Homo sapiens: one gene and its partner. The protein of the gene in region 1 interacts with the protein of each later gene in a pairwise test. Each region holds a gene or a part of one and is shown on either strand. Other genes may lie near its edges.

Region 1 (3,500 bases):
TGCGAAGAGCGCGCGCGGCCTGGGAGGGTCTGATGAGTGGGGCCTGTGAGGGGCGGGTCTTGCGGGAGGGGTGGGGTTTGTGGGTGGGGCCTTGCTTGTGTGGGCGGGTCCCGGGTTGTGGGTGCTTTTGGAGGCGGTACGCGCTGCAGAGGGCACAGGGGTGCATCCGGACAGGCCTGATAGGGCTACTCCTGGCCTCCCCAGATCCCCTTGGAAGGTGACGTCCATCAACAAGAGCCCCCAAAGGTGAGCAGGACTAGGGCAGGTGCTGAGGGGCGTGGCTTTGGGGGCTGGGCCTTGGCTCTGACTCGCTCTCCCCAGGGACTCAGGGCGGCACCGCCGGGCAGCTGGGCCCCTCCGGCTGGGGGGCAACAGCTCGGATTTCGAGATCCAGGAGGACAAGGTGCCCCGTGAGCGAGCGGTGCTGAGCGGCCTGCGCCACTTCACGGAATACCGGATCGACATCCATGCCTGCAACCACGCGGCGCACACCGTGGGCTGCAGCGCCGCCACCTTCGTCTTTGCGCGCACCATGCCCCACAGTAGGTGATCCACACACACACCTTCTACCCCCATCACCGACCCCAAGGACCCTGTGCAAAGGTTTGGGGTTTGACTTCTCGCTAACCCCAGAGCCTCGCTTTGCTTGCCCCTCTCAGTTCCCATAATCCCAAAGCTTTCCCCACCTCCCAGCTCAGCCCAGTTTAGCTTGGGTTTGAACATAAGGTGAGATGAACCACTTTTGGCCCGGCTGCTGGATGCCCCTTCCCGCAGGAGAGGCTGATGGTATTCCAGGAAAGGTGGCCTGGGAGGCCTCCAGCAAGAACAGTGTCCTTCTGCGCTGGCTCGAGCCACCAGACCCCAACGGACTCATCCTCAAGTACGAAATCAAGTACCGCCGCTTGGGAGAGGTAGGTGCCCGTGGGACCCCCGTCCCAGCCCCGTTTTGTGCCTACATCGCCTTCCCAGCCAGCTGTTCTGCGTTACTCTCAGGAGGCCACAGTGCTGTGTGTGTCCCGTCTTCGATATGCGAAGTTTGGGGGAGTCCACCTGGCCCTGCTGCCCCCTGGAAACTACTCTGCCAGGGTTAGGGCAACCTCACTGGCTGGCAATGGCTCTTGGACAGACAGTGTTGCCTTCTACATCCTTGGCCCAGGTATACACAGCCTCTGTCACAGACCTGTATCACCGAACAGCCCTACCTGGTCCCCAGCCCACCACAGGCCCCTCCCCCGCATCCCTCCCCATCCTCACCTCCCAGCATGGAAAGAGAAGCATGACCTTCCCTCTGACTTCTACATCTTTGACTCTACCCTCTGCTGCCCTCTGACTGCCAGAGGAGGAGGATGCTGGGGGGCTGCATGTCCTCCTCACTGCCACCCCTGTGGGGCTCACGCTGCTCATCGTTCTTGCTGCCCTTGGTTTCTTCTACGGCAAGAAGAGGTGATGATAAGTCCCACCGGTCCCCACCCCCTTTTCTCCCTGAGCCCTCATCATAAAGTCTGTCAAAGGGAGGTAGATGAGACAGTAGAAAGACAGGTCTTCCATACAGGCAGTAACTCTTCCCCTGCGGTGGCACAGAGGAAACATACCTCTCAGTTAGGGTGACCAACTCATCCCGGTTAGCCTGGGACTTTCCTGGTTTTATCAGTAAAAGTTGCACATCCTAGGAAACCTCTCAGTCCAGCCACACTGGGATTGTTGGTCACCACACTCTCACACCACCTGTCAGGTGTGAGAGTTTGTGCACCCAAGCTGAAAAATAATAGAGCTGTCCCTTATTAGGAGAAGAAGCAGGAGGCCTGGGGATGTGTTCCAGAATGCCTGATGTCAGATCCTTCCAGGGCTGACTGCAAGAGGAAAATGGGGCTGGACCTCGATCAGCTTGGCTATAGGGACTAGCTGACAGGGCGGAAGCCCCTTTACTCCTGTGTCCTCCCTATTCCCTGTTAGATCCCAGGAATAGGGCCAAGGCCAACTTGGAGGGTACTTAGGGATCCCCAGGAGTCACCCTGACCAAGGCTGGGGGTGTGGTCAGTAACTTCCCTCCTCCTTGAAATGTCCTTCTTCCTTCTTCTGATGTTGCTCATTCCTTCCTGAGAACCCTTCCAGCCTGACCCCCTCACCTCCCGTTGCAGAAACAGAACCCTGTATGCTTCTGTGAATCCAGAGTACTTCAGCGCCTCTGATAGTAGGTCTGGGAGTGGGTGGACAGGTGGTGTGGGAAAGGGAGACAGGAGAGGAGCAGAGACAGACTTCCAGAAGACCTTCTTGCAGAAGATAGCCTTGGGACAAGAGCCCTTCAGAAGAGGAGAAGAGAAGTTGGGGGGTGAGGTGTGGCAGAGAGCAGCATCCTCGCTTTGTGACCCTCCACCTCCTTGCAGTGTATGTCCCTGATGAATGGGAGGTGCCTCGGGAGCAGATCTCGATAATCCGGGAACTGGGCCAGGGCTCTTTTGGGATGGTATATGAGGGGCTGGCACGAGGACTTGAGGCTGGAGAGGAGTCCACACCCGTGGCCCTGAAGACGGTGAATGAGCTGGCCAGCCCACGGGAATGCATTGAGTTCCTCAAGGAAGCTTCTGTCATGAAAGCCTTCAAGTGTCACCATGTGGTAAGGGAGAGCCAAGGGCATTGTCAGGGTCATAATTAGTGTAAAGGTCATGTGGTAAGAAAGAAAGGGTCAGAGATGAGGTTAGGGCACCATTAAGGTCAAGATTGGGACCATGGTTAGGATCCTAATTGGGGTAAAGGTCATGGTTAGGGTTAGAGTCAAACAGGGTCATAGTAGGGCCACTGTAGAGTCATGGCTAGGGCTGAGATCAGTCATGATTGGGGCTCAATATTGGGTGTCCAGATCATTATTAGAGTCCTGATTGGGCTCAAGGCCAAAGTTGGACCAAGTTCGTGACTGTGATGATCATCAGATATGATGAAGGTCATGGGTTAGGGTCAGGGTCATTGTTAGGTCAGGAGTCAGGTTATAGTCATGGTTGGGGTTAGGGTCAGGTTTGGTGTCTGAGTCAGACTGTGGTCATAGCAGATCAGAATTTTGGCCAAATGGGTCAAGGGGAACTAGGGGGTCTGCTAGGCCCTTTGTCTGTCCCAGGTGCGTCTCCTGGGTGTGGTATCTCAGGGCCAGCCAACTCTGGTCATCATGGAGTTAATGACCCGTGGGGACCTCAAGAGCCATCTTCGATCTTTGCGGCCTGAGGCAGAGGTAGGGACCAGGAAGACCCTGGGGAGTGAAAGAAGGGTTGGGCACAGTGTGGGAGGTGGGGGCCAGTTCTGGACAGGAGACCAGCCTCTGGGTTCCTTCCTCACCAGCCCCCAATCTTGGCTCTAGAACAACCCTGGGCTCCCACAGCCAGCATTGGGGGAAATGATCCAAATGGCTGGTGAGATTGCAGACGGCATGGCCTACCTTGCTGCCAACAAGTTTGTGCACCGAGATCTAGCAGCCCGCAACTGCATGGTGTCCCAGGACTTCACCGTCAAGA
Region 2 (3,500 bases), on another chromosome or scaffold:
ACCCCCCACCTGGGATCTGCTGAATCAGCGCATGGGCAGGTGGGTCAGGCATGCATGTGTTCCAAATGCTCCTTGTGGCTCTGACAGGTGCCCCTGGAGAAGAGCCAGGTAGGCACAGCAGTGGCCCCAACTGCCTGTTTTGCCCCGAGCAGGAAAATTCCTCTTGGTGGTCCCGTTTTACTGTATGTTAAAGATCTGTGGCTCTTCAAGGGGAGTCCTAAAGTTTTCAGAGTAAATGGACAGAGTAATGATCCATCCTTGTTTACCCAGTAATGGTTACAGCCAATATTTATAGAGTACTTGCCATAGGCAAGGTACTATTCCTAGCATTTTATATCTCGTATCTCACTTAGTTCTCCTGACAACTTTTCCTTTCCAATAAGAGGAATTAACCTCACTTTACAGATAAGGAAAACTTTCACAGGGAGAGGGAAGGACTTTGCCCAAGGGTACATGGCTAGTGTCAGCCAGACATTTGCATTGTCTGGCATTTCACTTTTTTTTTTGAGATGGAGTCTTGCTCTGTCGCCCAGGCTGGAGTGCAGTGGCGCGATCTCGATCTCAGCTCACTGCAAGCTCCACCTCCTGGGTCTATGCCATTCTCCTGGCTCAGCCTCCTGAGTAGCTGGGACTACAGGCGCCCGCCACCACGCCCGGCTAATTTTTTGTATTTTTAGTAGAGACGCGGTTTCACTGTGTTAGCCAGGATGGTCTTGATCTCCTGACCTCATGATCCGCCCGCCTTGGCCTCCCAAAGTGCTGGGATTACAGGCTTGAGCCACCGTGCCCGGCCTAACATTTCACCTTTTAGAGTGCTTTTGAGTTCATGATTCAGGTGCATGCTTCAGGTGAAGCCACCTTTTAAGGGACCATGCAGGGGAAACCTTTCCAGATTGGCTTATGAGGAAACTGAACCCCAGAGAATTGTGCCCTAGCAAGGCCACGGAACTGTTGAAAAGCTGAACTGGAGCAAGAGCTGGGTTTCCTGACTTCTAGATCAGTACTTTCTCAAGTGGACTCACCTATACGGCTTGGCTGGTCATAGGTGAAGCTGAGGGGTGTGGGGGGAGCAGCAGAATGTCCCTGGAGATGGGTGCCTCCCTGGCAGACTCCTTCCATTCCTTCTGCAGAGGCCAGCCATATGAAGGAGGAACTGGTTGGCCAGCCTCAATGAGTGTGTATGTGTGTGTGCGACTGATTCGTTTTTGTGGAGTCCCGGAAAACATCATTTCCGGTTTGGCCCTGTTACTACCTCTGAAATGAGTTAGAAGAAATCTCTATGGTCCCTTTAATGTGAACATTTTGAGATGGAGACTGAGGTAAGAGTATGAAAGTACTTTGCACTTAATGAGTAGCAGTTGACACTTACAAAGCTTTTGTTAGGACCAGGACACTCCCTGAGCTCCCTGCAATTCTGACACTGAGAAATAGGTAGTCTTCCCATTTTGCAGATGAAGAAACTGAGGCCCATGGCTGCATACCTTACACATGGCAGAGCCTAGATTCGAACTCAAGTCTGGGTGCCTTGTGTCACCACTGTATTTTTCCCTGGTCAGAACAGATACCCTTGCTTTGTCCTGTGTCCTCACTGCTTTCTCCAGCTCACGTTTGTATCAACCTAAAGCAGGCCTACATACCTGGAAGGGAAAGAAGCAGTGGATTCTTCCTAGGCTTCAACTATATCTAAGCATTCCAGGAGTCAAGGGCACAGCACTAAGGCAGGAACTTGAAACACTCACTGAGAGGTTGTCTGTGTGTAGCCCCTCCCACAGGGGCTTGTTATACACCTCCTTAGGGGGAAGGAGGGGTAACTCCAGGTAGGCAAGTGTGGTTTCCAATCCCTCACAATGATACCTTTGCTCTGGCTGGTGCTACATAGGGCAGGGTCTCCTGCTGAGGCAGGGGCAGGATCCAGTCCTTTGAGTTTTCTTGGATGGCATCTCAGGCTTGTCCCTGCTGCCCTGTGGGCTATTAGATCACTTCCTGACATCCCTCAAGAGTCCTCTGGAGTGGGGCTTGCAGGGCTGAGCCTGCAGCTGACTTGTCTATGAGGAAACGCCTCCTCTGTCTCTGGTCCAGGATCTGCTACTTATGGAGGCCCACCCCAACCCAGCACGTTTTTAAAGTACGTTGGAGCTGCCCAGGAGGGTGTTTTGGCAATACCTCCTTTAGAGGCTGATTCTGAAATCAGCGTGCTTTAGAACTGCCAGAAATCCCCTGCTCCCAAAACTGAGTCCTCTTACCTCTCTAGCTGAGGTCAGAGAACAGATTGCTGAAGGGGCAGAGACAAGAAAGTGTGTGACCTGTGACCCTCGCCCCACAGGTGGCATTAAGGACTCAGGTCTGAAAGAAGAGACAGCCATATAGGGAGCTCTCCTGCCCAGGGAAAGGGAACTAATGGAGACACTGGCTTAGGTAGAGCTGCCCCAGTTGCTGGTGCAGAGAGGGCACCAGCATACAACATGCTGGTATGGGCCAAACAGCATGGCTAAAACTGCTTTTTAATTTTTTAAATTTTATTTATTTATTTATTTATTTTGAGACAGAGTTTTGCTCTGTCCCCCAGGCTGGAGTGCAATGGTGTGATCTCGGCTCACTGCAACCTCCACCTCTTGGATTCAAGTGATTCTCGTGCCTCAGCCTCCGGAGTAGCTGGGATTACAGGAGCTCACTACCATACCCTGCTAATTTTTGCATTTTTAGTAAAGATGGGGTTTCACCATATTGGTCATGCTGGTCTCGAACTTCTGACCTTAAGTGATCCCCACTGCCTTTGCCCCCCAAAGTGTTAAAACTGCTTTTTTCAAAAAATGCCCATGCAGTTAGATACACAGCTACTTTTTGGAACTTCGGGAGCCGGTGCTAAGCTGGGTCCGGCCCTGCCTTGCTTGTTAGCTGTAGAGAACAGTGTCAGTGGCCAGGCATGAAAGCAGTACACCCTCCCCATTGTTTGCAGTCTTTTGTGTGTGGGGGCTGTCTAGGCATCTCACCCTCTTTTGTTCCCTGCCGACTCACCTGCTGGTCCCAGGAGCTCTTCCGTCCACCTGGCACTTTAGGGCATGTCCATAGCCAAGGAACAGATGCCCCTTGCAGAGGACCTGGGAGGACTTCTCTCCATGGGGGAGTCCCAGTCAAATGTGTCTTGGCTGCAGGGTTCAGGCAGCCGTCCAAGAAGGGCCGGAAATGCTCCAAATACTCTCCTTCCTCCAATAGCTGAGAGGAAGGAGGCCCCTCAGAGGGGCCATTTTATAGTGATAGCCAGGCTAAGGCTAAGTCCTTTGCTGTGGGGGATGGGAGGTGGTGGGGAAGGAAGTACTTCTGGGGATGAACCAAAAAAGAAAGCAACTTTCTACCTGAATGGGCTTGTTAAAATCTGATTGTCTCAGAGGTTACCTTCTGCTGAATCGCAGGCAGATGTGTGAGGAGTTCCTTTGCTGGGACACAAAGCTGTGTTGTTGACAAAAGTGGTATCTGGACCTGACTTTCAGGAGAAGATTAAA

What was found. Proteins that work in one complex are often made in the same cells at the same time.
Region 2: the proteins of INSRR (region 1) and CTDSP2 interact in a two-hybrid assay, tested with the Homo sapiens proteins (one study listed by BioGRID and IntAct).

The regions. Positions count from the first base shown.
Region 1 is NC_000001.11:156,842,118-156,845,617, reverse strand, and holds part of INSRR (insulin receptor-related protein precursor), read left to right. Parts: intron 1-204; coding exon 205-246; intron 247-321; coding exon 322-542; intron 543-774; coding exon 775-911; intron 912-993; coding exon 994-1,156; intron 1,157-1,337; coding exon 1,338-1,443; intron 1,444-2,138; coding exon 2,139-2,191; intron 2,192-2,384; coding exon 2,385-2,614; intron 2,615-3,109; coding exon 3,110-3,220; intron 3,221-3,346; coding exon 3,347-3,500. UniProt on the Homo sapiens protein: Receptor with tyrosine-protein kinase activity. Functions as a pH sensing receptor which is activated by increased extracellular pH. Activates an intracellular signaling pathway that involves IRS1 and AKT1/PKB.
Region 2 is NC_000012.12:57,836,730-57,840,229, reverse strand, and holds part of CTDSP2 (carboxy-terminal domain RNA polymerase II polypeptide A small phosphatase 2), read left to right. Parts: intron 1-3,015; exon of another isoform or gene 3,016-3,139; intron 3,140-3,500. UniProt on the Homo sapiens protein: Preferentially catalyzes the dephosphorylation of 'Ser-5' within the tandem 7 residue repeats in the C-terminal domain (CTD) of the largest RNA polymerase II subunit POLR2A.